4 separate regions of the Homo sapiens genome follow, and regions 1, 2 and 3 are each linked to region 4. The links come from fine-mapping of genetic effects on gene expression. A gene starts in region 4. Each other region holds a variant in brackets. All regions are shown on one strand. Distances are from middle to middle.

Region 1 (8,083 bases), 29 kb before region 4:
GAGTCCACTTCTCGGCCTTGTGGCCAAGATCAAGTATAATAAACAATGGAGCCATAGTTGGAACTCAGTCTCTCTCTTTCCAGAGCCTCGTCGTTCACAAACCTGGTCGTCGGGACCCACCTGCTTCTCGTTTCCTTGGAGAATCAAAGCCATCCCCTCAGCTTGTCTACTGTAAGATGACTTGATAAACACACGGCTGCCTTCATCAATATCACTTCACTATGCCCAGGAGATTCTTGTCCTGCAAGACAACTGCTGCAAATAACTTTATGGTTCACTCCAGGAACTTCCTGGAAAGATTCATCAGCTCTTCAATAGAAAGCATCCAATGATAGCTTAGACTCAAAACTCATTCAACTAGCCACCAGCAAATCCTCATCATGCTGTGCTCACATGTGTGAAAGGATTACATCACGACTTGCTAATCCCAAGAAGGCTGAAAGACTCATCTGAAACTATATGTTTTGATCTTCAAAAATATGGACTAGGCGTGGTGGTTCACGCCTGTAATCCCAGCATTTTGGGAGGCAGAGGCAGGTGGATCACAAGGTCAGGAGTTCAAGACCAGCCTGGCCAACATGGCTAAACCCTGTCTCTACTAAAAATACAAAAATTAAATTAGCCAGGTGTGGTGGCGCATGCCTGTACTCCCAGCTGCTAGGGAGGCTGAGGCAGGAGAATTGCTTGAACCTGGGAGTTGGAGATCGCGATGAGCCGAGATCGTGCCACTGTACTCCAGCCTGGGTGACAGAGCAAGACTCCGTCTCAAAAAAAAAAAAAAAAAAAAAGAATAAATACCCCAATGTTGTTCTCTCCTACTCTGAGACCCTGCTAGTGAAACTGCCACTGCAAAATTATGACTGAGACGGTGAAAGAGATCTGACCTAACCAACTCCATCTTCCTTCTGACCTCCAAGCTGTTCTTGTTCATTCCTGGGCATGGGCTGAACTAATCTGGGGAGGAACTTAGTTTATAGTTTAGAAAAAAGAAGATAGCAGCCCTTTTCTCAAGGTAGATCCCCTTCTTGTTAGCCAAAAGATTAGAAAGTATGGTTTAGCAGTCATGCAGCTGAGGATTCAAGATTCTGACCCTCCCCAAATTGCTCCTAGGCATAACATCACTATTGTAAAACCTAAGGTCAGTGCCTGAGATATTTTGCAGGCCCTGCACTTGATGGATCAGCTGGCACCAAATCGATAAACTGGCCCATCTCATCTTGTGGCCCTCACCCAGGAACTGACTCAGCACAAGAGGACAGCTTCAACTCCCTATGATTTAATCTCTGACCCAGCCAATCAGCACTCCCGACTCACTGGCCCCTCCCCACCCACCAAATTATCTTTAAAAACTCGATCCCCAAATGCTCTGGGAGACCGATTGGAATAATAATAAAACTCTGGTCTCCCACACAGCTGGCTCTGTGTGAATCGCTCTTTCTCTGTTGCAATTCCCCTGTCTTGATAAATCGGCTCTGTCTAGGCAGCGGGCAAGGTGAACCCACTGGGCGGTTACACTAGGGCCCTGCAATAGGAGTGCCTTTCACTTCCCTGGTAAGCACCAGCTTTGTCCTGTGTACAGGCAGTGCCAACTCCATGGGCCTGTGACCCGTGCAGTTTCCAGGATCCTGCCCGCAGAAGGGCAACTTCATATCTGGCCTGGCACAGGGTAAGCACTCAGGAAACGCCAGCTATTAGCTAGTGACAACGTCCTGACCCCACCACATCTGGCAAATCCTTTTCCTCGTGGAGCCTGGATTCTGGACTCTCCTCCCACAGGTGAGTAATTGTTACTAGACACGCATGCTTCATTCAGAAAGTGGTCCACCTTGCCCCCAAAGCTTCCCCTGCTGGAGCTTTTCCTATGTGCAAGGCCTAAGCCTCAGCTGCATGCTGGGCTGACCCTTGGATACAGCCTGACTCTGTGCCAGGAGCCTGGCAGGCTCTGGGGAAAATGCCTGGTAGAGTGGTCCCTGGAACGTATGGTTTCTGCAGAGACTGTGGCATCCCAAAGACCCGCTTAGAAGTCTATGGGAGCAGAAGGAGGTGACCCTGTGGGGTGTGAGCTGCATATAGGCAGAAGCAGGAGGTCAGGCAAGAGGGAACGGTGTGGAGTGGTGTGGAGCAGTGTGGAACACGGAGCCTGGATTCTGAATGCATGCTGCATTTGCTGGGGTGAGGAAGGCGAAGAGAACTCCGGAGAAGAGGTCAGGGAAGAGGTGAAAAAAGGTCACTGAGGGGAGACAGATGGAAAGGGAAAGGCGCATGGCAGTTGATGAGTGGAGGGTCACAGGAGAGGGCCTCAAGGGGATGCTTCCATTTTCTCCCAGGTAAGCACATAGCATCAAGTTTAGAGATGCAAAGACAAAGGCAGGAGAGAATAGTTAACAAACCTCAGGGTGGTCGCGTCGAAGTAGCAGGACCAGGCCTGCTATTTTAATATTACTTAAGTTTGTGTATGTTGTACCTTAATAACCAAATTCAAGATGCCACTTCTAGGGGCTATTCAATGCAGTTTGTGTTGTTGTTTTGTTTGTTTTTTGAGACTTGCTCTGTCACCCAGGCTGGAGTGCAGTGACGTGATCTCGGCTCACTTCGATCTCTGCCTCCCGGGTTCAAGCCATTCTCCTCAATGCAGTTTTAACTGCACAAAATCCAGACAGTGGAAGAAAGTTTAGGAGCTTTTGGCAGCAAAATTCCCAAGGCGGAGCAGTTTCAAGAAAACTATGACCGGAGGTGGGGCTGCATGGCCAGTGCAGATCTGCAAGTCACGCAGCAAGGCAGCCAGCTCCAGTAGATGCGTTTGGAAGGCTGCTCCCTTCCAAGAAGAGACCCTGTGTCCCAGCAGTCCCTGACCACCAGGAGGCCTGCAGATGCAGCTGCGGCGGGTCACCCTGTGTGTGATACAACCATGCATGAAGGGTGAAGGGGTCAGCAGCTCAGCCCTGGAGCATCTCTCTTAATCAAGTTCAGCCCCAAGTCATGGGTGCTTGGAACTTGGACCTGTTGACCCTCATCGGCTCTATCTAGGCAGCAGGCAAGGTGAACCCACTGGGCGGTTACACTAGGGTCCTGCTATAGGAGTGCCTTTCATTCCCCTGGTAAGCACCAACTTTGTGGACAAAGCCCAGGAATCTGTATTCTAAAACCCTCTCCCTATCTCTCCACCCCCATGATCTTTATTAGGTCAACTCAGGGGAAGCTGGCTATGCCAACAGGGCGGCTGCCTCTTTAGCTAATTTGCCAAGAGAGAAGGGCAGAGCTGTCTTCTCCAGGTCTCAGCCTCATGGTAGGCTCTGGAACCACAGCAACACAGGCCAATGCGAGCCACCTGTCCTGCAACCGCCCCCTCCCCACCCTGCACAACACATCAGGAGGCAATCACTTTACCAAACACATAGGAGAAAAATAATTTATTTATTTAATTTAAAACAGCAAGACTTCAGCTTCCACCCAGTCAGGGCTTGCATTACAATTTTGCAGGTGCAAAAACTCACACTTTTGATGCCACAACTAGAAGTTTGTAAAAACTATTTTTCTTGTCGTGGACACGTGAAGAGTTCTGTTTGCACCCTCAGCCTGGGCCAAATAATCATCTTTATTTAAAAACAAAACAGAACAAACAAACCAAAAAACCCTCAAAAGCACAAAGAGGCAGAAAGCGGCTGGTAAACCTGGTTAAAAGACCAAAGTTCAGAAAGTGCATGGGAGAGGGACGCTGAGCTGCGGACACCGTTCCGGCTGCAGTACGTGTTATGGCTGAGGTTACACTTGGGTGACTCAGGGATGCAGGCAGATGAACATTAACCACACTAACAGAGGAGAAAGAAGCCCACTGGGGCTGTGCAAAGTGTCCAAGGAGCACAGCCCCTTTTGCCCTGATCAGATGTAACAGCCCCTCGCT[T/TGAGCCCAGGAGTTC]GAGATCTGACTGGGCAACATGGCAAAACCTTGTCTCTACAAAAAGTCAAAATTTAGCCAGGCCTGTGGTCCCAGCTTCTCAGGGAGCTGAGGTGGGAGGATCGCTTGAGCCTGGGAGGTGGAGGCTGCAGTGAGCCATGATTGCATCACTGCACTCCAGACTGGGTATGATGCTCCAGACAGCAAAACCCTGCCTCACAAAAATAAATAAACTAAAAAGAAGTAACAGCCCCTCCTGGACTTGTTTTATTTTTTGAGATGGAGTCTTGCTCTGTCACCCAGGCTGGAGTGCAGTGGTGCAGTCTCGGCTCACTGCAACCTCTGCCTTCTGGGTTCAAGCAATTCTCCTGCCTCAGCCTCCTGAGTAGCTGGCACTACAGGCACACGAAACCACATCCAACTATTTTTTTTTTTTTTGTATATTTAGTAGAAACAGGGTTTCACCATGTTGGCCAGGCTGGTCTCAAACTCCTGACCTCAGGTGATCTGCCCACCTTGGTCTCCCAAAGTGCTGGGATTACAGGCGTGAGCCACTGCGCCTGGCCCCCTCCTGGACTTTTAGGATGTGACTTCCTTCCCATCCAGCCTTTCTGTCTGAGCACTACCCACCCAGCTAGACTGACTTGGTAACTGGATCTAAGAAGGAGGCGATATTGCTGTTTTCGAGGTCGATGGGCCAGGGGCCTGGGCTAAGGCACTTAGACAAGCCCCTGCCCTGCCCACCTGGTCACCACCATTCACAGTGATCACTCATCTGTGGCAAGAGGTGGGCAGCGGAGGAAGCTGACTAGAGATACCTGATGTATAACTTTTTGGAGGTTTTTACAAAAGCAGATACAGTGGCCAGTGGCATCAAAGAAATGGAATGAGAACTTGAGCCCAGGCACCCGGAGCAGGTATTTTCTGAGCCCTCAGCTCCCTCTACAGGCCTTTCCTGACCACAGCCAGTCCATCTGGGGAGCCATGTCTCAGCTCTGGCTTGGGTACAGCAGGGAGGGCTCCAGAGGCCCCTGCTGAGCAGGGTTGATCCTAACACTATTCCTCTGTGGCCTATATTGTCTTTTCTCTTTTACCTGTTAATCATGTTCTCTTTTGCAGCAAGCAAATTCCTGAATTTTCGCTCCCTTCTAGAAGCTCAAGTGAGGGTCTTTACCAGAGACATACCCAGAGATTTGCTGTAACGTCTTCAGGGGAATCCAGAATTCACTTACAGAGGCTATTTCTGCCAAGTGGCTTTCCCTGGAGCAGCCCAGAGCTCTCTTTCAATCCTAAGGGGATGTCTGTCTCACTAATTTCCATCAAGAAATCTGTTTTCTTGGACAGGCACAGTGGCTCATGCCTGCAATCGAAGCATTTTGGGAGGCTGAGGTGGGTGGATCACCTGAGGTCAGGAGTTCGAGACCAGCCTGGCCAACATGGTGAAAACCCGTCTCTACTGAAAATACAAAAAATTAGCCGAGCATGGTGGCGCATGCCTGTAATCCCAGCAGCTTGGGATTGGGAAGCAGGAGAATCGCTTGAACCTGGGAGGCGGTGGTTGCAGTGAGTCAAAATTGCACCACTGCACTCCAGCCTGGGCAATAGAGTGAGACTCCATCTCAAAAAAAAAAAAAAAAAAAAAGAAAGCGACAAAAAGAAATCCATTTTCACAGGAAACCAAAAATGAGCATTTTGGACTCAGTCTGCTAAATGATTATTCCTTTCCTGATACAGATTTTGGTTTTGAGAGTCAAACAGGGATCGGCAGCACAGCGTGACTTCGGTTTTGATTCAGAACCATTTTACTAGGCTCAGAAAATCATGCTTTGTCGAGTTCTGATGGATTCCAAGGGAAATCACCTATCAGGTAAAGCTGTACTTTCTCTCACCAAGACCCTGGAGGTAGCATTTCCACTTCCATTCTTTGCCGATGGCTCCTGTGACTGAACACAGAAGCTGTTTTCTGAAATAAGACGAAAGCGTTTGTGGAAGACCCACAGAATAAAAATAGAGATACAGGTGCTTACTTTCAATTCTTTTCTTTTAAATGTAAATAATCGCTCCATGCTCCATGCCGCCACTTACCTCAGCTGAATACAAAACAGCTGAATCCTTTTGAATCCTTTGTTTTTTTCTTTTTTTGAGACAGGGTCCTGCTGTTGCCCAGGCTGGAGTGGCAGTGGTGCCATCCCAGTTCAATGAAGCCTCAAATCCCTGGGCTCAAGGGATCCTCCCGTCTCAGCCTCCTGAGTAGTAGGGACTACAGGCACGCACCACCACATCAGCTCCGGGCGACAGAATGAGGCTCCTTTTTTAAAAAAAAAAAAAAAAAAAAACTGACTCTGAAGCTTAAAACCTTCACCTTTAGGAAGAAATCGTATTTGTTTGTTTGAGACCGAGTTTCACTCTTGTTGCCCAGGCTGGAGTGCAATGGTGTGGTCTTGGCTCACCGCAACCTCCGCCTCCCAGGTTCAAGAGATTCTCCTGCCTCAGCCTCCCAAAGACCTGGGATTACAGACGTGCATCACCATGCCTGGCTAATTTTTGTATTTTTAGTAGAGACAGGGTTTCACCATGTTGGCCAGGCTGGTCTTGAACTCCTGACCTCAGGTGATCTGCCTGCCTTGGCCTCCCAAAGTGCTAGGGTTACAGGTGTGAGCCACTGTGCCCGGCCTGAGGAATCGTATTTGGATTACTCATCTCTCCGGCCACTTTACTTACAAAAAACTAAACTAAGAAGTAAATAAGCCAGAACCCCTCCCTACTCATCCCCTTTGGTCTCCCCAAGAAGAGGAGGATTCTAAGAAAGGAGCTGGAGAGACAGTGGGGTCTTCGGGGGTTCCCTGAGACGCCTCTTCCTGCCCTTGTTCCAGCTTTGGAATTGGAAGGAGGGAACCTGTGTCTGAAGTGATTGACAGGTGGGGACAGGAGTGTGGATTCTGGCCTGTGCTTGACACTCAAACCCAAGCTACGGCAAGGGTTAGCAGCCCATGGAGGGAGAGGCCAGGAGGCCCGGGGAGACTGCTGTCCCTGAGCAGCTGCGCCGGGCTGTGCTTGCCCCTGGTGGTCACCATGCAACCTCAGGGGAACCTTCAACCTGGTGAATGGCAACTGGTTCCTCTGTTGAGCAAAGTCTCCAAGGAAAGCCGGGTTCTCCAGAGAATCTTAACACCCTGACCAGCCGGGAATCTGCTCCATGATGTGTGGATGGGGACACATCTCTGAGGGCCCCTGACAGCTTATTTAATCACACAGAGGATAGGTGCACAGATGTGGGTCCCTCAGATTGTAAACAGTGCTGTGTGGTCCTCAGGACATCAAGGTCCACTGGGTGGGGGCACTGTGGCCACAGCTGTGGGCCACCGGCTTCCCGAATCTCACTGCTACCCTTATGCAGATGAACGCCCACCCGTGGGCCAGGACGCTGGTACCGGTGGAACTTGCTGCCTGAGGATCTAGGAGGTAGAAGAAGCTGAGTTGGCAGCTGCTCTCCCAATGGAGCCGAGAGCATCAATAGCGGGGGCTTCTGGTGCAGCAGACATGCACTTCTGCCCCTGCAGCAGGGACTCACAGAAGTGCCTACCCCCAGGAAGGCAGCACCTATGCACAGAACTAGAAAGGACAAAAGCTCAGGTGCTTGGAAGTTCCCCTGGGGTCCCTTGGGATTCCTGAGATTCTCCTGGCTTGGAAGGCGCGGGAGCCTTGGGAGTGCCAGCCGGGCTCTTGGTGGGAGGCTGAGAAGAGCAGCAGCAGCAACAGAGAGAGAAGAGCCGAGTTCGGACGGCGCGGGTGCAGAGGACGAACATGATGCAGTTGGCACCTCCCTGAAACGTGTTCCCGATACCCTGTCGGGAGAAAAGGAGCTGTGAGCATGGGGCTGGAGTTGGTCTCAGAAACACACGCGCTGTTGCAATTAAGAGAAACGGCTAGGCTGGGTGCGGTGGCTCACACCTGTAATCCCAGCCCTTTGGGAGGCTGAGGTGGGCGGATCACTTGAGGTCAGGAGTTGAAGATCAGCCTGGCCAACAAGGTGAAACCCTGTCTCTACTGAAAATACAAAAATTAGCTGGGCATGGTGGTGGGCGCCTGTAGTCCCAGCGACACGGAGGCTGAGGCAGGAGAATCGCTTGAACCCAGGAGGCGGAAGTTGCAGTGAGCCGAGATCCCACCACTGCACTCCAACCTGGGTGACAAAGCCAGACT
Region 2 (8,103 bases), 43 kb before region 4:
TAAATCCATAGAGAATGCAGATTGATGGTCTGGGGAAAGGCTCCTATGTTTTTGAACCTGCCCAGTTGTGGGTGCAATCTTGCACCAGGCAGCCCAACCCTGACCTAAAGTAAATTCCCAGAAGTCTTTCCTGGGTTTTGAATTTGCAGTAACAGCTGTGGGCATTCTAGCAGCAGTTCGATGATCATGTATGGTACTGCAAACAGGACAAAAAAAAAAAAAAATGCAGATTGGTGGCTGCCAGGGGCTGGGGGCAGGGGGAATGAGCAGTGACAGCTAATAGGCACCTTTTCCTTTTGGGGTGAAGAAATAGATGAAGTTATTCATTAATTGTGCAACCCTGTGAATGCTGCCAAATTGTTCACTTTCAAATTGTTGATTTCATGTTATGTAAATTTCACCCCAATAAAAAAAAGAAATCAATACTAGCCTGGGTAACACCGCAAGACTCTGTCTCAAAAAAATTGTTTTAAAGACAACTACTTTGCTGGGACATCATTTATCTACAACTTACAGAACTGTAAGCTCAAAGGCAACGCAAGGGCAGGGCCCTGCTGATTCGGGAAGAGTATGCTTGAAGCAATGCAATTTTCCACGAAAGTGCACATTTTTCTCCACAGTGGTTTGAAATCAGCCATGGTGAAAATGAGACAGGAATAATACAGGGTGGTCGCAGGAGAATAGAAAATTCCAGGCAGCAGTTTTGCATGACTAGCAAAAGGAAACTGTTGAAATAGCTGCAGAAGTAGGGGCCCTGAAAAACAGGATGTGGGCCAAGCTGGCTAAGGCCGACTGGAATCAACATAGCGCTGGATTTGACCTAGGTTTCACGTAGGACCTCATTATGTGCTCATTAACATACTAAACCCTGCGGGGTTCGGTGGCTCATGCCTGTAATCCCAGCACTTTGGGAGGTTGAGGTGGGCAGATCACCCGAGGTCAGGAGTTCAAGACCGGCCTGGCCAAAATGGTGAAACCCCATCTCTGCTAATAATACAAAAAAATTAGCAGGGCATGGTGGCACATGCCTGTAATCCCAGCTACTCGGGAGGCTGAGGCAGAAGAATCACTTGAACCCAGGAGGTGGAGGTTGCAGTGAGCCGAGATTGCACCATTGCACTCCAGCCTGGGCAACAAGAGTGAAACTCCATATCAAAACAAAGAAACAAACAAACAACACATACTAAACCCGGCCAGGCACGGTGGCTCACGCCTGTAATCCCAGCACTTTGGGAGGCCGAGGCGGGCGGATCACGAGGTCAGGAGATCGAGACCATCCTGGCTAACACGGTGAAACCCCGTCTCTACTAAAAATACAAAAAATTAGCCGGGCAAGGTGGCGGGCGCCTGTAGTCCCAGCTACGCGGGAGGCTGAGGCAGGAGCATGGCGTGAACCTGGGAGGCGGAGATTGCAGTGAGCCGAGATAGCGCCACTGCACTCCAGCCTGGGCGACAGCGAGACTCCGTCTCAAAAAAAAAAAAATAATAATAATACTAAACCCACATCCACCAGTGCCATGACAGTTCCTGGGACATCCATATTTGGCATAAAAACAGGTAACACCACAATTTTGAGAAACCCTCACCTTTTTCCAGGAATCTTCATAAATATCCCACCCCTTGGTTAAAGAAACCCATAAAGGTGGAAGCTCCCAACCCTGCTGGGTGCAACTCTCTCTTGAGTAGGCCCGAACTCTCCTTTCTTGAGTGTGTACCTTTTGCTTTGCAATAAATCTCTGTACTTTCACTATTTTCTGACTTGTCCTTGAATTCCTTCTGGCAAAGGTGTCAAAAGCCTGGACACTGCCTGCGGTTAAGGTCCCACTGGCGTTTGGGGACCTCCTCTAGCCCACTGGCATCAGAAACATTACACAAATCAGCTCACACTATAAATCAGCCCCGGGCCCACCATCCCAGCCTGTTGAACATGTTCCAGCACATCACGGACTCTGGTACTACATCAGGCACCAGATCCAGATAACATATCTTGCATCTCACCCAGGATCTTGAGAAACACGCTTTGGAAGCCAGCAGCCCTATGGGGGCAGCCACACCATGTGAGCATCGGCCACACCCTTGGGTGGCCCTGGAACCAGACCATCCTCCAGCCCCCGTTGGTCTGGAAACCAGCAACAGCCCCATCACCTGGGAGCTGGTTAGAAAAATGCAAAATCCACTTCACTCCAGACCTGCTGAATCAGAACCTGCATTTTGGCCACATCCCTGGTGGTTCAAGCTCACATTTAAGTTCGAGAAGCTCTGCTCTAGGCTTTTCCTGAATGTGGCGCATCAGTGATTCCTCCCGGCCCCAAGGCCTCTGTGCCCAACCAGGACTGACTTACCCCGGCCTTGCACAGCACCCGCAGGACTCTCCTTGGTGTTGATGTGGGCACTGGCTGACTGCCACAGCACTCTATGCCTGCTCTCTGACTCTGTCACGCGTCTGCTTTTCCTCCTGGGATAATGTGGTGCTGGTGTTGATGAAAAGAGTCAAACTGTAAAATATTTTTAGAGATTTATTCTGAGCCAAGTATGAGTGACTACGGCCTATGACACAGCCCTCAGGGGGTTCTGAGAACATGTGCCCAAGGGTACAGCTTGCTTTTCTACATTTTAAGGAGGCATGAGACATCAATCAAACACATTTAAGAAATACATTGTTTTGGTCTAGAAAGGCGGGACGATTCAAAGGTGGGGGAGGGTTCTTCCAGGCTATAGGTAAATTTAGACACTTTCTGGTTGATAATTGTTTGAATTTGTCTAAAGACCTGGGATTAAACAGAAAGGAATGTCTGTAAGATAAGAGGTTGTGGAGACCAAAGTTTTACCATGCAGATGAAGCTTTTAGCTAGCAGGCTTCAGAGAGAATAAGTTGCAAAATGTTTTTTATCAGCCTTAAAGTCTGTGTCACTGTTGGTGCTGGAGAGGTTTGATGAGGCATGTTCGAACCCCACTTCCATTATGGCCTGAAACAGTCTCTCAGGTTAAGTTTTAAGAGCCCTGACTGAGGAGGAAGTTCATTCAGATGGTTGTGTCGGGAGGGCGGCTTAGAATTTTACCTTTGGTTACACTGGGGTGGCAGTGGTGCAGGACGGGGCAGGTTTGCTCCCCTCCAGGCCAAGACAAGTGCTGGCTGCAGAAAGGTTTTATCTGCTGGTATTTGAAAAGCTTTCCCTGATGCAACGGGCCCAGGCAAATCCTGGGAGTTCTGCTGTCTGCCAGGGAGAAAAGCTGAAGGGAGGAAGGGTCTGATCCCATCTCTGGTATCATGGTCCTAAGAAATTGCTGGAAATGCTTTCCTCATTAACAGGTACTGCCCAACAAGAATAAGTCTTCCCTCCCAGGTCCTCTGTTGACTGCTGAGGATGGGCCTGGGGCCCTGAGAACAAAGGAAGGGAACTAGTTAATATGAAGTGGGACAGGGAGTTCAATCTTCATGATCACTTGGATAATGAAGAAAGGCTAACTAGCAGGGATAATGACAGCTGGACTTTCTCAAGGGCTCTTTCTCCAGCTTAGTCATTGCCTGAAGTGTAACTGCCCGATGGGTTCTTTCTGCCCGCTACACAGACAAAGTCAATTGACTGAAACCATGGCATTG[C/A]AGTAAAGGAAGAGTTTAATTGCTGCGAGGCCAGCCACGCCCTAAGGGAGAGGGAGTTACCACTCAAATTAATCTCCCGGAAAGCTCAGAGGCTGGGATTTTCTTTTTCTCTCTCTTTTTTTTTTTTTTTTATTGAGATGAAGTCTCACTTTGTTGCCCAGGCTGGAGTGTAGTGGCACAATCTCAGCTCACTACAACCTCTGCCTCCCAGGTTCAAGTGATTCTCCTACCTCAGCCTCCTGAGCAGCTAGGATTACAGGCATGCACCACCACGCCTGGCTAAGTTTTGTATTTTTTTAGTACAGATAGTGTTTCACCAAGTTGGTCAGGTTGGTCTTGAACTCCTGATCTCAAGCAAGCCACCCACCTTGGCCTCCCAAAGTGCTGGGATTACAGGCGTCAGCCACTGCACCTGGCTGAGGTTAGGGATTTTCAAAGATAGTTTGGTGGGCAGTGGACTAGGGAATGGGTGCTATTGATTGGTTCTGGAATGCCATCATAAGGGTATGGAAAACGGTACTGGTGCTTGACAGAGCAGGAGCATCACCATCTTGAGCAAACACCACCATCCTAAGTTCCACTTGATTAAAAAACCCCTAAATCCAGCCCCAAAACATCAGCCTAATGGCTAATGTCAGCATAACCAGAAACATTCCAACCCTAAGATAAATCCCTCTCTGACCAGAAACATGCCAACCCCAAGACAGCCTCCCCTGTGACCAGAGACATTCCAACCCCACAATAAACTTTCCTTCACATAGAAACATTCCGAATCTATGATAAGTCCCCTCTTTCAAAACCCTTAAATATCCTTAGGTCTGTAAGAGAGAAGAGCTGTCTCACCTAACTCGGCCAGAAGCCACTTTCAGGTTTGTTTTCTCTAAAATAAACCTGTCCTTAACTGTCAAGCCACATTTTGTGTTTCTTACTTCTTTCTTTTTTTTTTTTTTGAGACAGAGCCTTGCTCTGTCGCCCAGGCTGGAGTGCAGTGGTGCAATCTTGGCTCACTGCAAGCTCCGCCTCCCGGGTTCTCGCCATTCTCCTGCCTCAGCCTCCCAAGTAGCTGGGACTACAGGCACCCACCACCATGCCTGGCTAATTTTTTGTATTTTTAGTAGAGATGGGGTTTCACCGTGTTAGCCAGGATGGTCTCAATCTCCTGACCTTGTGATCTTCCCGCCTCAGCCTCCCAAAGTGCTGGAATTACAGGCGTGAGCCACCACACCTGGCCTCTTTCTTCTTTCTTTAAGTCTTACATTTGGTGCCAAAACCCGGGATGGGTGTTGGCGGCAGAGGCTCTCTTGCAACCCAAGAGGCAGTGGGCAGCAGCGGCCCTCATCCTGAATTAACTCCTGGATCCTGAGAGCCTCTGGACAGCCGCCCTGTCTTTTCTCTTGTTTCACTTTTCAAGCGATTTATGTGAGGAGGACAATTAATCTGAAGGGGACTGTGAGACTCGGGCCAGGGCTACTCTCCGGTGGGCTCTCAAAACCCTCAGGTCTCAGGAATCCACCTCCAACTGCCCGCAACAGGTATTTCGCTCTCTAGCACTTGCTCCCTCTTCCTTCCTCTTCTCTCTCTCTCTCTTCCTCGTGTGCCTCCAGTCCAGGAGGCCCTTTGCCAATTCCAACTGGAACATCCAACATTTGGCTTATGGGGGAACCTAAAGCCAAAGCATTTAGTTTTTTATTACAACACAGCCTGGCCCCAGTGCAAATGAGATAATGACAGTTGATGGCCTGAAAATGGCACCTTTGACTTTCAAATTCTCAGGGACCTTAACAACTTTACAACCAGGAATAGCAAAAGGCAAGAGATTCCCTGTATTCAGGCTTTCTTCTGTCTTAGATCCCGACCCTCCCTATGCCAAGCTTGCACCCTTCATGAAATCCCTCTTCTTAATGAAAATCCTCCCTGGGTTTTTCCTTCCTCTGGAACCCCTCCTCTGAAACCCCTTTTGACCCTGCAGATAAAACCCCTCCATATTCTCAACTCTCTGCATCCACTCCTCACCCACCCGAACCCTACACCCAGCTGGCCCCTCCTGCTCCCAAGCCTTTACCACCAAACCCCCTCCCTCCTCCTTCTCCACCTATTACCTGTTTGAAAACTACTCCAGCCCCTTGGGTGGCTGCAGTTTGCCAACCACCCCTGGTGGTGGTTCGGCATCTGGCCAACTGCCACTCTCCCCCACATTCTTCACCCGTTACCCACTCAAAAACTACTTCAACTGGGTGCAGTGGCTCACGCCTGTAATCCCAGCACTTTGGGAGGTCAAAGTGGGTGGATCACGAGGTCAGGAGATTGAGACCATCCTGGCTAACACGGTGAAATCCCGTCTCTACTAAAAATACAAAAAAATTAGCCAGGCGTGGTGGCGGGTGCCTGTAGTCCCAGCTACTCAGGAGGCTGAGGCAGGAGAATTGCCTCAACCCAGGAGGTGGAGGTTGCAGTGAGCCGAGATCGCGCCACTGCACTCCAGCCTGGGTGATAGAGCAAGACTCCGTCTCAAAAACAACAACAACAACAACAGCAAAAGCTACTTCAGCCAGTCAAGCCACTCCTGCCAGTCTTCCTCTCTGGAAAGTGGTTGGGATTAAAGGCATCCCTTGCGCTCATGTCTTTTTCTCCATCTCTGATTTGTCACAAATCAAACAGCATCTGGGATCTTTCTCTGAAAACTCCTCTCATTATCGCAAGAAATTCCTGCACATAATTCAATCCTTTAATTTAACTTGGCATGACATTCATATAATTCTAACCTCCACCCTCACTCCTGACGAAAAAGAGTACATCTGGTGTTCAGCTGAAACACACGCAGATAAACTCCATAATCAAGCCCCTATACAAAATCCAGTGGCTAATGATGCAGTTCCCCATAGAGACCCAAACTGAACTTACCAACAGGGAGATGCTGGCATCAGATAAAGAGACCACACAATTACCTGTCTCCTTGTGGGCATGGACAAAAATGCCCATAAGGCAGCTAATTATGAAAAACTTAGAGAAATTACACAAGAGCCCCAGGAAAATCCTACCCTTTTCTTATCACACCTCATTGAAGCTATGCTAAAACATACCAATTTGGACCCAGAATCTAGAGAAGGTCAAACTTTTCACCACCTTCAATTTATTTCCCAATCTGCCCCAGATATCTAGAAAAAATTATAAAAATTAGAGGAGGGTCCCCAGACATCTCAGTGGGATCTCCTAAATACAGCCTTCTGTGTCTTTAACAACAGAGACAAGGAACAAAAAATTCAAAAAGGCAAGCGTCTCTGTTTAAAATACCAGATGCTTGCCTCTGCTGTCCAAAAGTCAATTACACAAAAGTCTCCCAACAACCCAAAAGGAAACTCCCCCACCTCTCTGGGAGTCTGTTTCTGATGTGGCAACCCTGGACGCTGGCCAAAGGCTTGGCCTAACCCCTGGCTGCCCACCAAACTGTGCCCAACTTGCAGTCTTTGGGAACACTGGAAAATGGACTGCCCCCAATGGGAACACCTTCCCCGTTTGGGTGCCACTCATAATGAAGCCCCCTGACCATCACAGGAGGAAATCTCTTCACAGCTGGCACTGCCCATGGAGGAATGAGGGTCCCTGGGATTCTTCACCCCCACATCTAGTGAGTCCATGGAACCCAGGGTAATTTGGACAGTATCCATTAATATTACTTCCTTTCTTTTGGATACTGGGGCGAGCCTATCAGTATTAACTGAATATGAAGGCCCATTAGAACATTCATCCGTTTCTGTTGGCGTGAGGGGCATATAAGAAACAAAACACTGCCACTATACTGCTCATTTCAGGGAGTCACCCTCACTCTTTTTTGGTCATTCCTCACTGTCCCACTCCTTTATTAAGAAGGGACATTCTACACAAACTAGGGGGAATCATTCATTTATTGGCCCTAAACCAAAGCCACTCTTATATATTATTATGTCAAGAACAGACCCCTCCTCAGACATTCAACATCAAACAGACTTAAATCCCAAATTCCTCAGCCAAGTAAACCCCATAGTATGGAACACTGACTTCTGCATAATAGCTACCCACCATTCTCCAATCCAAATTTCACTGAAGAATCCTAAGCACTATATAGTGGTCCTACAATATCCCCTCAATCCTGAATGGATTACGGGGACTCAAGCCCATCATCTCTCAACTTTTGGCTGCCAATATTTTAATCCCCACCCATTCTTCCCACAATAATCCTATTCTCCCAATTAAAAAACAGGATGGCTCCTATAGACTGGATCAGGATTTGCGACAAATCAACTCCGCTTTTGTTCCTGTTTATCCTGTTGTCCCCAACCCCTATAACCTCCTGTCATGAATTCCTCCCAACACTAGCAACTTCTCTGTAATAAGCCTTAAAGATGCCTTTTTTACTATCCCTCTACATACCTCCTCTCAAAATCTTTTTGCTCTCACTTGGACTGATCCTGACACAGGCTGCTCCCAACAACTCACCTGACTGTCCTCCCCCAGGGGTTTAGGGA
Region 3 (8,103 bases), 34 kb after region 4:
ACCCACCCTCCTCCCCTGGCCACGTGCCTCATGAAGTCCTCGAGGTCATCCCTTCCTTTGCCACTGATTGGTTTGGGGCTGAGCACAAGACCCAATTCTGGCCAATGAGGTGTGTGAGAAAGTCAGCATGGGCTTTGGGAAAGGCTTCCTCACTCATGAGGAGACCCCGGGAGGAGCCCAATGGGAGAGGAACTGGCAGGCAATGAAGCCAGTGGGGTGAGGGCAGCAGAGCAGAGATACGGAGGGAACCAAAGTCCTTGACATTACTGAGCGCCTGGATGTCACCTGTCCTGAAGCTGCCCTACCTCTGGACTACTTGGTTTATTACTTTTTTTATTTTTGAGACAGTGCATTGCTCTTTTGCCTAGGTTGGAGTGCAGTGGCACAATCCCAGCTCACTGCAGCCTCCACCTCCTGGGGTCAAGCGATTCTCCCACCTCAGCCTCCTGAGTAGCTGGGACCACAGGTGCATGCCACCACACCTGGCTAGTTTTTTTGTTTTGGTTTGGTTTGGTTTGTTTGTAGAGATACCCCACATCTGCCTGTTTGCCCAGGCTGGTCTCGAACTCCTGGGCTCAAGGGATCCTCCTGCTTCAGCCTCCCAAAGTGTTAGGATTATGGGCGTGATCCACTGCACCTAGCCTTAAAAAATGTTTACTGTTCTGATTAAGTCATTTTAAGTAAGGTTTTCTCTTACTTGCAGCTGAAGGAATCCTAACTGGTATATTCCATAGTCTAAGCAACTGTGTCATCATCAATTACCTTGGAATTTTTTTTGTAAAAAAGCAAATCACTTAACAAACAGCATCTCTGTCACAAAGGGTTCGGTAACAGCAAAAACTGCTCCCCTGTCCTGTCCCTGCAAAGAATGCCATGCAACGGGGGTTTCAGACAAGCATTGTATCTGCTCTTACCCCTCCCCTTCCCAGTAAAATGTTTGGGTGATGTTCCATGGCAGGGAAACAGATAGAAGAAGGCACAGCCTGGTTCAAGGAAGAGGGCAAATGCGTTTTCAACGATGCCAAACTGGGCAAAACTAGTCCTAGTTTCAGGTGGGGTGTCCTGGGCTTGTTCTTCACTGAAACAGACCTGGGCTCCTTTTCTTCCTGTCCTCAGGCCAGAAATCCCCCATCAATTTGTCTAAGGGAACCATCACTGGCCAAGATACAGAGGGGGCAAGAACACAGGAGACCGAGTCTTCTTACCAGGAGAGGTGATTTCAAAACTCCAAACAATCTCCAAGTAAAATCCAGCCCCAGTAAGGGCCTGTAGCATAAATTTGAATTTTGGAGGGAGTCCAGCCCTCCACGTGTTTCTCTGATAGGAACTGGGAGAGCTTCCCCCATACAGCCAAGTCCTGTCGCGGAGCAGTCCCCCGACCACCCTGTCTCTGCCCCAACCCCTCCTTATGGAGGCAAACAGGCCACCAAACTACAGCCTCCCACGGTGTTCCATCAGCAGTCACAGGAAAACCCTCATGGCTTCTGGGCTTTGCCTCCCCAATATGCCACCCAGCACCCAGGCTCCATAAGAAATCTGCTTTCAGAATCAAAGACCTGAAAATTAGAAATGCTTTTCTAATGCCGAGGCCAAATTTCCTCCACACAAAACACCACAAATCCCTCTCCAAACAATTCGCGATTGCCCCCCAATCTCAATGGCCTTTTTCTCGGGTTGTAAATGTTCCCTAAAGTTGTCAGTGAATTAAACCAGAAAAAAAAAGAAAGAAAGAAAAAAAAAAAAGAAAGAAAAGGGTGGGTTACCTGCTCTGTGGGCCAAAGAAGGACCTTGGATTGATCGGATGTCAGCTCTGGTCCTGCAGCTTCCCCAGCCTGGCTCCACCTGTCTGACCTGTTGGGCTCGCTGCCGCCTCTGGGCCTGGCACAGCCGCAGGGAGCGGGGCTCGCTGCCAGCACCCAGGCCCCTCCATAGGTGTGCATTCACCTGCCAAGAGGTGCAGGCGCACAAGTGCCCTCCCCTCTCTGCTCCCACCATGTGACCTGCCCCCCAGCCGGACAGGCACTGGAGCATCTCCCTCGGTGTCACTGGAATTTCAAACCTGAAGCTGGCAGAGAGAAAGAAGAAAGGGAAGAAGAAGAGGGGAGGGGGACAGAGGAAAAATCCTGGCCCCCACAACTAACCAACAGTCCTTCCGTGATGTCGTGGAGGTCAGGCCAGGTGGGGCCAGCAGCCCCGTCACGGTGATCGTCAGGGTCAAATTCCAGGGCTGCTCTTTCCCCCTGGGTGGCTATTTTGGGAAAGCAGCTTTTCTCCAGCAGTGGACAGACTAGCTACTATGGACGCTGGAATCCAGAAGACTCAGAGCTCTGCCAGGGCCCAGCACAGGTAAAGGCACGGAGGACAGCCCTGGGAGCAAAGAGACAGTTTGCCCTCAGGTGCCCCTGAACTCCGCTCTGAGCACACACAATCCCACGGGTCCCTCCTGTCCCTACCCTTCAATAAGGATCACCCAGCACTTGGGGTCCTATCTGGCTTGGAAGAGGACGTGGGGCTTGAGGTATTACCCAAGGTGTTGAGGGGGTACAGCTGGAGGGGCAGGTGGCATCAGGTCTAGCGGCAAGGCCACTATTTTCCTGCCCTCCAGGACTGAGAGCCCTTAGCAGCCAGATTTGGCTTCTCTTCCCTTTCACTCCCTGGCCCCTGATGCCCGTCAAGCTCAAGTCGATACTGAACAACTGAGTACACAGCACAGCCTGGGTGTGAGGTCAGACTCTGTGCCTGGGATTGGGGCGGGTCAGGCATCTGACTCTGAGTTTCAACCACTGCTCAAGTTCAATCATGTGCTTCTAAGCTGCCAATCAAGCCAAACCTCTGGGAGTCACTGAAGAATAGAAACCGCAAGGCCAAGAGGAGGGTTGTGGTGCCCTGTGGTCTTGATAACTTGGGTTTTGAATGCAGGGTGGATGTTAAGATATAAAGCCCTTCCTAGGAAACCAGAAGACATCCTCCTAAGGAGGCAACAAAGCAGGGCAAGGCCCAGGAGAGGACCTGTGATGGAATTCAGACAGAGCCCAACCTCCCAGGGTACAGCCTTGTTCACGGGGCGCGGGAGGAGAAGGCTAACTGCTGCTGAGTGTGGCCAGGCAGGTCTTCAGCTACTGACATCAGGGCTGTGTCCACCCCTCAGAGCAGCACTGAGCTTGAAAGTGAAGCCCTGGCCGAGCGCGGTCGCTCACGCCTGTAATCCCAGCACTTTGGGAGGCCGAGGAGGGCAGATCACCTGAGGTGAGGAGTTCAAGACTGGCCTGACCAACATGGAGAAACCCCGTCTCTACTTAAAAAAAAAAAAAAAAAAAAAAACAAAAAAGTGAGGCTCTCTCTCAAAGCCAGCCCTTGCTCTGCTGCCCCAAGAGGGTCCTGCAAACACACGGGCCTTGTCCAAGGGGCCTGATGTGCAGGAGAGGGGCAGGGCCCAGGGCAGTGACCCCGAAGGGCTCCATCCTCGGACCTGACTCCTCCTTGCTCATAAACAACCAGGCCTTTGCCTTCCTCCCACACCAGTCCCCGGGTCAAAGGCCTTAAGAAAATCCCCGGTGCACTAGCCAACTCAGACCGCCCTGGCCCTTAGATCATCCGCTAGTCACTGGGCTGAGACCCAAAGGAGAGGGAAATATTTGGCGATTTCAGGGAACTGAACAGCAAAGGTGTTCACAATCAGACCACCAGCAGGAGTGCGGCACGCCCCTTAAACACTCTAAGGAAGTATTTACCAAGGCTGCTAAAAAAGAAGTTGAGGATTTCTGCCTCTGATTTAG[T/C]AGAAAATAATCTTTGAAATTTACATACAAAGTCCCATGATAAGTCATTTGGGATCCCCCAGAGGAGGAAGGCTGCTTGCGGTTAGACTGGGTGAGTCAACGAAACAAACAAATGGGCCCGATGAGGTCAGCTTTTTGGAAAAGGAACAAAGAAAACTGCACCCAAATGAGAGGCAGCTTACAATGGTGAAGCAGTGGTCACAGAAAATCCATTTCCAAAGCCTCTAATCCAGCAGTTTGGGGGATGATTTTGTCACCCAGGGGACATTTGGCAATATCTAAAGACATTTTTGGGGCCGGGTGTGGTGGCTCATGCCTGTAATCCCAGCACTTTGGGAGGCCGAGGCGGGCAGATCACTTGAGGTCAGGAGTTCGAGACCAGCCTGGCCAACATGACAAGACCCTATCTCCACTAAAAATGCAAAACTTAACTGGGCATGGTGGCACACACCTGTAATCCCAACTACTTGGGAGGCTGAAGCAGGAGAATCACTTGAGACTGGGAGGTGGAGGTTGCAGTGAGCCAAGATCGCATCACTGCACTCCAGCCTGGGTGACAGAGCAAGACTCTGTCTCAAAAAAAAAAAGAAGAAAAAAACCCAGACGTTTTTGATTATCACAATTGAAGGGTAGGGAGTGCTCCTGGCTTCTAGTGGGTAGAAGCCAGGAATGCCGCTAAACATCCTACAGTGCACAGGGCAGCCCCCACCACAAAAAATCATCTGGCCCCAAATGTCTGTAGCACTGCCACTGAAAAACTGTTCTCATCCACCGAGAACTCTCTCTCTCTTCCTTGCAAGTCCTGGGCAAAAGGTTGTTTTTAGTAGCCCAGAGGGCCATGGTGGTGACAGCTCCTCCCTGGGTGATGCCAGGCTTCAGGGGGTCAGCATCTTTGGAGGGTCCTCTAGGCATAGACCCCAGCTTGGGCAAGCCACTTGGCTGCCCCTGCATGGGTGACCCTGCCTGACTGCCCCTGGCTGCAACAGCCCCTTGCCGAGGCTTCTAGACCCTCAGAACCTCCCCCCTGCTGCTCTGGCTCTCAAGGTCCCACAGTAAAGCCACAGGAATGAGAAGGAGCGATGACAGTTCTCATCATCCCGTCATCGTCACAGCAGACTGGTAGGTGCTTTACAGGTGACAATGAGCTTTCACATTCGTTGTCTCACCTGAATACATAAAAGCCTCACCCACTGTTAAAACAATCTGAGTTCTTGACCTGCCAGACCAGTGGAACATGCAGAGGCCACCTGTCCCCGATGAGGGCCTGGGGGAGAGGGAGCCGTGCATTCATCTGGGGAGACCCCAGAGTCCAGAGCTGGGCAGAGGTGACAGCAGCCTGTCTAGGGGACCTGGGGGAAGCCAGGGTTCTGGCTGCTCCACGGCAGGCCCTGAGGTGGAGGGTCTAGACCCTGACCAGGCACCAGTCCTGCTGAAATGAGGCTCCGGAAATAGACGCACATCACACTCCCTGGAGTATTTTCTGGGCGGCCACAGAGTTCAGCAAATAGTCAACAGAAAGCATCTCCAAGAAGTGGGTGAACCGGAAGGACACATGCCCAAGGCTGATATGGGAGGTGTTTGGGGACTTAGGGAAGAAGCAGGACAGAAATAGGCCCAGCTCATTAACTGCATCTACATATGAATTGCTTGACTTTTTTTTTTTTTTTTTTTCAGAGACAGGGTCTGGCTTTGTCACCCGCTGAGCTGCAGCACAGTGGCATGATCATAGCTCACCAGAGCCTCAACCTCCCCGGCTCCAGCCATCCATCTTACCCCCTCAGCTCCTCTAGTAGCTGGGACCACAGGTGTGCACCACCATACCACGCCTAGCTAATCTTTTTTTTTTTTTTTTTTGAGACGGAGTCTCACCCTGTCCTTCAGGCTGGAGTGCCGTGGTGTGATCTCGGCTCACTGCAACCTCTGCCTCCCGGATTCAAGCAATTCTCCTGCCTCAGCCTCCCAAGTAGCTGGGATTACAGGTGTGCGCCACCACACCTGGCTAAATTTTTGTATTTTTAGTAGAGACGGGGTTTCACTATGTTGACCAGGCTAGTCTCGAACTCCTAACCTCAGGTGATCTGCCCATCTCGGCCTCCCAGAGTGCTGGGATTACAGACGTCAGCCACTGCACCTGGCAACCCGGCTAATGTTTAAAACAATTCTTTTAGAGACAGGGTCTTACTATGTTGCTCAAGCTGGTCTCAAACCTCTGGGCTCAAGTGTTTCTCCAGCCTCAGCCTCCCAAAGTGCTGGGATTACAAGCATGAGCCACCGCGTCTGGCCCGTTTGAGTTTTTATGAGTATTATTACTTATTTTATAAATCTAAAAGAACATTAGGAAAAAATAAGAATAAGGGCAGAATATCTCGTATCCACACCCCCTTTCACGGGATACAGAGCCTTGCCTGCTTGGGAAACTCCTGAACTGCAGTCTGGGTTGCAACTCCATGCGTCATTCATCCTGGTTACCAGACCCTGGAAAACCGACGCCAAGTGAGACTCTGAATAAGTCAAAGGACAGAGACCACAGGAGACAGCTCCCGGCGCTAAGCAAACGCCTGTCTCCAGCAAACCTCAGGAAATGAGAGAAACAAGTCCACGCTCCAGCTGGGAGCCCCCTGCAGCAGGGAGGCTGCCCATCTTACACCCCTAGACCTCCTGCCTGCACTCCCCCTGAGTAGGTGGCCCCTGCCACTGCCGTTCCCCTCAGACCACGGCCTTTCCTCGGGAGAGAGGGTGGATGTGGGGAAACACCAGCTCTTCAATGTACCCTGGGAAGGCGGATCCTGGAAGGCCCTTTTGAAGTTTGAGCAAAGAATGGGAGGATGCGACCCACCAGGCAGGCAGGAGCCGCTGACTCCAATGCGAAAATAGAAACTGCTTCCCTGTAGCTTGGATGCTATTGCAGCTGGCACACAGAGGCTGTTAGGATCAAGACGAGGTTCTGGATCCAGTGCCTGCCTCTGAGGCTGCTCACAAGGAGGAAAGTCACTGCAAAAATGCTTGGCCCAGGCCGGGCGTGGTGGCTCATGCCTGTCATCCCAGCACTTTGGGAGGCCGAGGCAGGCGGAATCACCTGAGGTCAGCAGTTCAAGATCAGCCTGGCCAACATGGTGAAACTGGTGTCTCCAAAAATACAAAAATTAGCCAGGCGTGGTGGCACACACCTGTAATCTCAGCTACTCGGTAGGCTGAGGCAGGAGAATCGCATGAACCCCAGAGGTGGAAGTTGCAGTGAGCCGAGATGGCACCACTGCACTCCAGCCTGGGTGACAGAGTGAGACTGTCTCAAAAAAAAAAAAAAAGAAAAAGAAAAAGAAAAAAGAAAGAAAGGCCAGGCGCAGTGGCTCACCCTGTAATCCCAGCACTTTGGGAGGACAAGGCAGGCAGATCACGAGGTTAGGAGTTCAAGACCAGCCTGACCAGCCTGACCAACATGGTGAAACCCCATCTCTACTAAAAATACAAAAATTAGCTGGGCGTGTGACGCACGCCTGTAATCCCAGCTATTCAGGAGGCTGAGGCAGGAGAATCACTTGAACCTGGGAGGCAGAAGTTGCAGTGAGCCAAGATCGCGCTACTGCACTCCAGCCTGGGTGACAGAAGGAGACTCTGTCTCAAAAAAAAAAAAAAAAAAAAAATGCTTGGCTCACCTGGCAGCTTTAAGCTTGGAGCCTCCTGGCCACCTGACCTGCTCTCAATGCACACAAGGCACAGCCTCCTGGAATGGTGCCTGCACGCCCACTTTATCACCCACTTTCCAACCTGCAGAACTGCCGTCTAATTTTCCATTTACAACTGTTCCTCCACCTCAGGCCTCAGCATTGTTTCTGCAGCTTCAACTCCTTACTCCTCTGTGCTGTGAGAGCTCTGTGCTCCCACCTCTGGCTCTGTCACCCACAGCCAGTGTGAATAACTCACAAGGTGTCACCAAGACCTTCCACCTCCCCAGGCTCTCTGTTGTGCAAAAGGGATTCACACACCTAGAGACAGGGCTGGAGCTGGGTGGCCATGGGACTGACCTAGAGGGACAGCTCATATGCTCCACCATTCTTGAGGGCATCTACTTCCCAGCTAACATGTAAAGCAAGAAATTCAGACCAGGCACGGTGGCTCACACCTGTAATCCTAATGCTTTGGGAAGCTGAGGTGGGAGGATCTCTTGAGCCCAGGAGTTTGAGACCAGCTTGGGCAACACAGGGAGAGGCCATCTCTAAAAAAATATTTTAAAATCATCCAGGTGTGCACCTGTAGTCCCAGTTACTCAAGAGGCTGAGGAGGGAGGATCGCTTGAACCCAGGATTTTGAGGCTGCAGTAGGCTATGAT
Region 4 (8,103 bases):
AAAGACTATTTCAATTCACACCATCAATAATACTGTAGAAAAATGCCAGTGAAACTCGCATTTATCATGTTTGTATTCTGCCTTTTTTTTTTTTTTTGATATGGAGACTTGCTCTATCACCCAGGCTGGAGTGCAGTGGCGCGATCGTGGCTCACTGCAACCTCCACTTCCCAGGTTCAAGCGAGTCTCCTGCCTCAGCTTCCTGAGTAGTTGGGACACGCACCACCACACCCAGCTAATTTTTGTAATTTTAGTAGAGACGCGGTTTTGCCATGTTGGCCAGGCTGGTCTCAAACTCCTGACCTCAAGTGATCCGCCCACCTTGGCCTCCCAAAGTGCTGGGATTTACAGGCATGAGCCACCGTGCCCAACTCTGCCTTACTATTTTTTTCCTTCAAATTAAATGAGGAAATGGTACCTTACTGTTATAACTTGTATTGCTTTGCATATTAATGGTATATGACATATTTTTTCAACTGCTGTTACTATTTTGCTTGAGTATGTCCTTTGTCCATTTTTCAGGATATTTGTGGGTTTAAAACAATTCAATTCCTAAACGCACATTAGAATAAGGATGTCAACCTTCTGTGTTGTCGTATTTTAAAATACTTTCTAAAACTGAAAGCTTTGAAGAGGACTGAATTCCAGTAGTATGAAATGGTTAAAAAGTGGATAATCATGTAGTCTATGCCTGAAGGTGATATTTCTCACATCAATAGATCCTGCAAACAATAAACTAATATTCCAAAGAAATACACTGGAGAGTCCTTAGTAAGGTCATTGGCAATACAGTCTGGGAAGATCTAGGTTAACAGATGAACCTGTTAGGCAGGTTTAACCAATTCCCTTAGACTAGCGAAGTCTGAGTGCTGAGAACTCCAGAGAATAAATTGTCAAACTCCCTCTCTAGCTTGGATACAGATAATTTTATTTTCTTTTAAGATGCAGGCAGGTCACATTCAACAGACAAGATGAATACGTTGCTTGTTTTTTCTTTTCTTTTTCCTTCATTTTTTAAAAATTTTTTTCTTTTTTTTTTGAGAGAGGGTGTTGCTCTGTCTGCAATCATAGCTCACTACAGCCTCGACCTCCCAGGCTCAAGCGATCCTCCCACCTCAGCCTCACAAGTAGCTGGAACTACAGGCATGCGCCACCATGCCCAGCTAATTTTTAAATTTTTAGTAGAGACAAAGCCTCACTGTGTTGGCCAGTTGAACTCCTGGGCTCAAGCGATGCTCCTGCCTCGGCCTCCCAAAGTGCTGGGATTACGGGTACAAGCCACCACACTGGGCCTACTTCTTTATCAAAGAAGCCCTTCCTGAACAACACAGAAACCCCCCTAGAGGGTCCGTAATGAGAACCGAACAGAAAAACCCCCAACTCAGGTTTGCTGGGCAATCCTTCTTTTCCACAGAAGCTGGACCAGGTTCTGTTACCATTAAAAAAATACTGTATTCAATATTTTTAAAGACAAGAAGGGAAAGAGAACAGGTTCTTGCAAAGAGAGGTACAGCCTCGACTCCTTCCAAGTACACACGATCTCCCGTGTACTCGGGGCCCACACCCAGCCAGCCATCACGGGACCCAGACAGGGTCAGATGGGATGCTGCCGGGAAGGCAAGGCAAGGCAGGGCCCTATTCCATCTGCAGCATCTGAGCCTCGGTTTGGATGATGTGTTGCAAAGATTTTTTACTTGTACAGCTGAGAAGCAGGTCACTTAGTTTCTCAAGGACCAGCCGGCCTCAGTGCACAACTGAAGGTCAAGCGACTCTTACAGCCCTGTAGCCTTGCCGTGTGACACCCAGGTGACCTGTCTCTGCCAAAGTGCTGACTGTGCTCGCAGTCCTTGGAATGCACTTAAGTTTTTAATAGAAAGGACCTATAATTAGGGCAGTATCTGATGCTCTGATCTGGGAGAAGGAGAAAAGGAAAACAGCCCCTAGGATTCCTGCCCTCAGTTCAGCACAGCACAGGACGCCATGAGATTTTCAAAACCTGACATTCCCCAGGGAAGGGCCGACCCTCTTCAGCGAGGCTTACTTGAAAGACGCTTGAATCGCAAAGTAAGGTCTTGGCTTTTCCCCACTCTCAGAGAGACTCCAGGAGGACTCCGAGACTCCCAGACCAGCCCTCCGCCCCTGCCCTCAATCTCAGAATTGCTGAACTCTGGAAAGTCAAGATCATCTAGAACAGAAATACAAGGGGCTGGGGCCTGAGGCTAGAAACGACCAAAGACAGAATAAAAAGCACAGTCCTTTGTAAACTGTACAGCAGAGACACGGCAGCTCGGGAGTGGCGGAGTGCACCAAGCTCACTGTGGCTTGGGGTGGGGTGGTGGCGTGGGACTGGCAGTTGCCGGCTCTCCAGCCCGGGACAGTTACCTAACTCGTCTCCCAGCCTGTTTCCCCATGGGCAGCAGAGACAGCCAGGACACAGTGAAGCAGGTCACAAGGGGCTCAGAGTGTCCTCCCCAGCCCCGTCCAAGGAAACAGGGCCCGGCTCTGGGGGCGAACTCTGTCCCCACTACCCCAAGGGGCTGTGCCCTGGGGCAGGCACAGCGGGGCTCCTTCGGGAGGGAGCGAATCTCGGGCAAGGCTGGCCTCCTCCCGCTGGCCCAGGACAGCCTCGGGGGCGCCAGCAGGCACTGCTTGCTGTGGGTAGGGGGTGTCCAACCTAGACGCGGCCTCTGGGAGGGCAAGACCGGGAGGGGTCGGCCTGTGTCGGGGGCTCCTGGAAAAGCAGCGCCACCGCCACCCACCTGACGACATGGAAGGCCCAAAGCAGGCGATCTGTGCGAGGCCCGCGCGCGGCGCGGACGATGCTGAGGTACAAGTAGAGCGCAATGGCCACGGTCCAGAAGAAGGAGCTGGTGTTGGCGAAGGTGGACAGCGCGCCCTGCAGCACGCAGTCCCACGACGGGCCCGCGAAGTTCTGCAGCACTCCGTAGAAGTAGGAGGCGGCCGAGAGCAGGTCGGCCAGCGACAGGAAGAGCAGCAGGCGCCGTGCCCGGCTGCGCAGGTCGGGCCACAGGGCGTGCGTGGCCACCAGCAGGCCCGAGCCGAGCGCGGAGAGTGCGCACGACAGCAGCACCACGGCGCGCTCCGACGGCACCAGCTCGGTGGGCGGCGGGGACGGCTGCATGGCGTGGGGGGCCAGGAGCCGGAGCGCCGCGAGGACAGAAGCCGGGCCGCGCGTGCGGCCACGCCGCCGCCGTCTGGGCACCGAGGCGCCCTAGGCTCGCGTCCAGGCGCCCGCCCCGCCCGCGTCCGGCCGCTCCCCCGCCCATCTGGGCCCCGGGCCCTGAACCCCGTCCACGCCCTGCGCCCCGCCCCTATATCCCGGGCCCTGAGCCCCGCCCACGCGCCGCGCCCCACCCCGGTACCCCGGCCTTTAAGCCCCGCCTACACTCCCAGCCCCGTCCCGCCGTCCCAGGCCCTGAGCCCCGCCCACAATCCGAGCCCCGGACACACGTCCCCCGGCCCACATGCCCTTCCCGCCCACACGCCCCCCCCCCGCCCGTGTGCCCCCGCGTTGAGACTGGGACTTAGAGCTCCGCCCACGCGCCCCGATCCCCTGTCCACAGGGCCCAGAGACCTGGGCCTAGAGCCTAACCCACGCGCCCCGCTCCGCCCACGCACCCCGCCACACCCCTGTGTTCCGGGCCCTGACCCTGGCTCAGGTGCCCTTCCTCGTCCCGTTGCCCCGGGCCCTGAGCCCCGCCCCCGCCACGCCCCTGAGGCTTCCAAGCTCCACCCGGTGCCCGAGGCTCCTGAGCCCCGCCCACGCCCTCACACCACGCCCCTAAGCCCCTAGGTCCCTAAGCCCTACCTCAGGGCACCCCCAGGTCCCAGCACCTGTCCCTCCACGCTCCTCCAGGCCCACCCCTGCTCTTGCCAGGTGTCTGGGACATCCAGTCCTGTGAGAGGAAGGGCTGGCATTTTTAGGGCTAATATTACTTTCCCTCTTTTCAGCCAGCTTCTGTGTGTGTTGTGAGTGGAAGGGCGTGAGGATCAGAGGCATTCTTTCCACTAGCAACAGAAACAGCTCTCGGGTATGATCCTCATTCCTTCAGCCGTGATCCCGACGTGTTCACAAGTTGGTGGTGACTTGGGGAAGCCGGCGTTTCCACCTTTTCTTAAAATAAGCATGCTATTTTTTAAAAACCATAGCTAACTAGGTGTGATTTTTAAAAAATGAAATGCTAGGCAGGGCATGGCTTTTTCTTTAAAAATTTCAAACTTTGTAATTAAGATGTAATTCACATACCATAAAATTGGCCCTCTTAACCGAACAATTCAGTAGTATGTTCACAAGTTTGTGCAACCATCATTATTATGTAATTCTACAACATTGTCATTACTCCCAAAAAGAAATCCTTATCCCTCAGCTGTTAGCCCTCAGTTCTCCCCGACAGCCCTGGCAACCACTCTTCTACCGTGGATTTGCTTATTCTGCACATTTCCTGTAAATAGACTCATATGCTCTGTGGCCTTTATGTCTGACTTTTTTAACTTAGCACGTTTCCAAGGTTCATCGTAGCATATGCAGTGCTTCATTCCTTTTACTGCCCCGTAATATTCCATTATATGGATATACCACCTTTTTTTTTTTTTTCTAGAGACGGAGTCTCCCTCTGTCGCCCAGGCTGGAGAGCCGTGGCATGATCTCGGCTCACTGCAACCTCTGCCTCCCGGCTTCAAGCAGTTCTCCTGCCTCAGCCTCCCGAGTAGCTGGGACTACAGGCACACGCCGCCACGCCCGGCTAATTTCTTTTCTATTTTAGTAGAGGTGGGGTTTCACCGTGTTGCCCAGGCTGGTCTTGAACTCCTGAGCTCAGGCAATCTGCCTGCCTTGGCCTCCCAAAGTGCTAGGATTACAGGCATGAGCTACCGCGCTCGGCAGGATATACCACATTTTACTTAGCTATTATTCATCAGCCGATGGACATTTGGGTTGTTAACACTTTTTAACTATTAAGAATAATACCACTATGAAAATTTGCATACAAGTTTTTTTGTGGGTGTATGTTTTCAATTCTCCTATGTGTATACCTAGGAATGGAGTTGCTGGGCCATACGCAACTTTATATTTCACCTTGTGAGGAACTGCCAAGGTGTTTTCCAAAGTGACTGTACATATCATTTTACATTTGCACTAGCAATGAAGGTCGCAATTTCTCTACATTCTTCCAAAACTTTTTTTTGAGACAAGGTCTTGTCGCCGAGGCTGGAGTGCAGGTACAACCACAGCTCACTGCAGTCTCAAATTCCTAGGCTTAAGAATTCTCCCACCTTGGCCTCCCCAGTAGTTAGGACTTCAGGTGCATGTCACCATGCCCCACTAATTTTTTTTTTTTTTTTTTTTTGAGACTGAGTCTCGCTCTTGTTGCCCAGGTTGGAGTGCAGTGGCGTGATCTTGGCTCACTGCAACCTCTGCCTCCCGGGTTCAAGCGATTTTCCTGTCTCAGCCTCCTGAGTAGCTGGGATTACAGGTGTGCACCACCACAACCTGCTAATTTTTGTATTTTTAGTAGAGACAGGGTTTCACTGTATTGGCCAGGCTGGTCTTGAACTCCTGACCTCAGGTGATCTGCCCGCCTCAACCTCCCAAAGTGCTGGGATTACAGGTGTGAGCCACCTTGCCTGGGCCCCACTAATTTTTTTTTTGGAGATGGGGTCTCACTGTATTGCCCAGGCTGGTCTCAAACTCCTGCCTTGGCCTCCCAAAGTGCTGGGATTACAGGCGTGAGGCCACCTCACCCAGCCTTCCTACATTTTGTATTATCTTTGTGATAATAGCCATCCTAGTGGGTGTGAAGTTGTTCCTCATTGTGGTTTTGATTTGCGTTTCCCTGATGAATAATGCCCTCAAACATCTTTCCATGTGTGTATTGGACATTTGCATATCCTCTTTGGAGAAATGTCTGTTCAACTTTCTTTCTTTCTTTCTCTCTCTCTCTTTCTCTCTCTGTCTCTCTTTCTTTCTTCTGTTCCTTTTTTTTTTTTTTTTTTTTTTTTGAGACTGAGTCTCGCACTGTCACCCTGGCTGGAATGCAATGGCGCGATCTTGGCTCACTGTGACTTCTGCCTCTTGGGTTCAAGCGATTCTCCTGTCTCAGCCTCCCAAGTAGCTGGGATTATAGGCGCCAGCCACCACGCCCAGCTAATTTTTGTCTTTTTAGTAGAGATGGGGTTTCACCATGTTGATCAGGCTGGTCACAAACTCCTGACTTAGAGTGATCCACCCGCCTCGGCCTCTCAAAGTGCTAGGATTACAGGCGTCAGTCACCACACCTGGTCAATTTTCTTTCTTATTTTTAAATTGGTTTGTCTTTTTGTTGTTGAGTTGCAAGAGTTCTTTATATATTCTAGCTATTACACCCTTATCAGCTATATGATTTGCAAATATTTTCTCCCATTTTGTGGTTTGTCTTTTCACTTTCTTGATAGCATGTTTCAAAGGAAAAAAGTGTTTTTTGAGTATGTCCAATTTGTCCATTTTTTTCTTTGGTTGTTTGTGCTTTTGGTGTCACATCTAAGAAACCATCACCTATGCCAAACTCATGAAGGTTTGCATCTATGTTTTGTTTCTTTCCAATACCTCACTGTTATGGTTACTGTAGCTTTGTAGTGAGTTTTGAAATTGGGAAGGGAGTCCTTCAAAATTGTTTTTTCTTTTTTGGGGAGAGTCTTACTATCTTGCCCAGACTGGAGTGCAGTGGTTTGATCTTGGCCCACTGCAACCTTTGCTTCCCAGGTTCGAGCGATTCTCCTGCCTCAGCCTTCCGAGTAGCTGGGACTACAGGCGCCCGCTACCATGCCTGGCTAATTTTTGTATTTTTAGTGGAGGCAGGGTTTCACTATGTTGCCCAGGCTGTTTTCGAACTCCTGATCTCAAGTGGTCTGCCCGCCTCGACCTCCCAAAGTGCTGGGATTACAGGCATGAACCACCGCACCCTACCCTTCAACATTGTTTTTCTTTTCCAATATTTTGGCTATCTGACGCCCCTTGCGATTCCCTATCAATTTGAGGATCCGTTTTTCTATTTCTGCAAGAGGAATGGAAAAGATTGATAGAGATTGCTTTGATTCTGTAGATAAAAGTGGAGAATAATGCTATATTAATAATATGAGATCTCCTTATCCATGGACCAAGGATGTCTTTCCATTTATTTAGCTCTTCTTTAACTTCCTTTTAGTGATGTTTTGTAGTTTTTGGTGTACATTAGGTTTGATCTTGCATTTGATTCATAGAAAGCAAAGATTATCTTTGTATATCTAACTTTAAAAAAATTATTTTGGCCGGGCGCAGTGGCCTGTAATCCCAGCTCTTTGGGAGGCTAAGATGGGAGAAACACTTGAGAGGCCAGGAGTTTAAGACCAGCCTAGACGACTTAGTGAGACTCCATCTCATACAAAAATAAAATAAAGGCTGGGCATGGTGGCTCACACCTGTAATCCCAGCACTTTGGGAGGCCAAGGCAGGCAGATCACCTGAGGTCAGGAGTTCCAAGACCAGCCTGACCAAAATGGTGAAACCCCACCTCAACTAAAAATACAAAATTAGCCAGGCATGGATTTAGGGCGTAATCCCAGCTACTTTGGAGGCTGAGGCAGAAGAATCACTTGAACCCGGCAGGCGGAGGTTGCAGTGAGCCGAGATCACACCATTGTACTCCAGCCTGGGCAATAAGAGTGAAACTCTGTCTCAAAAAAAAAAATAAATAAAAATAAAAATAAATTGTTTTACGAAATATGCATATTGAAAAGTGCCTAAAATACAAATGTACAACTTATTAAATAATTATAAACAGCCATCCAGAGCAAGAAATATAACATTACCAGCGTACCACAAACCTCCCCAAACACCCCTTCCCCCTCAGTCATTTCCTTGCTGTTTTTCTGTTTTGTTTTTTGCGAAGGCTGGTCTTTAACTCCTGGGCTCAAAGGATCCTCTGGCCTCAGCCTCCTAAGTAGCTGGGACTACAGACAGGAGCCACCACTGGAGGCTCTTGCTTTTACCCATCCATGTTTGCATCCCTGAACAAAACAGTGTAGTTTGCCTGTCATTGAGCTTTATGTAAGTGGAATCATACTCTCCGT

Direction of the effects. Positions count from the first base shown, and alleles are read on the strand shown. Sizes are in standard deviations (SD) of each study's normalised expression. Not every link is listed here.
For the expression in atrial appendage of the gene that starts at base 3,217 in region 4, allele TGAGCCCAGGAGTTC in region 1 goes with a lower level than allele T (small effect, 0.21 SD a copy in GTEx).
With allele T in place of C in region 3, the expression in monocytes after R848 of the gene that starts at base 3,217 in region 4 is lower (moderate effect, 0.74 SD a copy in Quach 2016).

Evidence for each region. PIP is the estimated chance that this variant, and not a neighbour inherited with it, causes the effect.
Region 1: its variant is fine-mapped to the expression of GPR157 in atrial appendage (GTEx, PIP 0.92).
Region 2: its variant is fine-mapped to the expression of GPR157 in blood mononuclear cells (TOPMed, PIP 0.98).
Region 3: its variant is fine-mapped to the expression of GPR157 in monocytes after R848 (Quach 2016, PIP 0.95). The same link has a PIP of 0.9 or more in monocytes, monocytes after LPS and monocytes after Pam3CSK4.

What each region holds. Positions count from the first base shown.
Region 1 is chr1:9,096,910-9,104,992 of GRCh38, forward strand. GPR157 (G protein-coupled receptor 157) reads right to left here. Exons shown (of 4, transcript NM_024980.5): 4 at 3,396-7,725. The coding sequence ends at 7,510. Among named protein-coding and RNA genes, the nearest start is that of GPR157, 28 kb to the right of the region's middle. RefSeq lists an enhancer at 7,190-8,083. The variant T/TGAGCCCAGGAGTTC (reference allele first, on the strand shown) is at 3,902.
Region 2 is chr1:9,082,672-9,090,774 of GRCh38, forward strand. It overlaps a transcript of SLC2A5 not described here and LOC124900441. Among named protein-coding and RNA genes, the nearest start is that of SLC2A5, 17 kb to the left of the region's middle. The variant C/A (reference allele first, on the strand shown) is at 3,602.
Region 3 is chr1:9,160,244-9,168,346 of GRCh38, forward strand. All of the region lies in intron 1 of MIR34AHG (MIR34A host gene), which reads right to left. Among named protein-coding and RNA genes, the nearest start is that of MIR34A, 13 kb to the left of the region's middle. RefSeq lists silencers at 2,462-2,531, 2,682-2,751, 4,522-4,571 and an enhancer at 3,682-4,011. The variant T/C (reference allele first, on the strand shown) is at 3,777.
Region 4 is chr1:9,125,886-9,133,988 of GRCh38, forward strand. It overlaps GPR157 (G protein-coupled receptor 157), which reads right to left and starts at 3,217. Exons shown (of 4, transcript NM_024980.5): 1 at 2,760-3,217. The coding sequence starts at 3,142. RefSeq lists silencers at 3,074-3,423, 3,484-3,803 and enhancers at 4,505-4,574, 4,595-4,714, 5,005-5,094.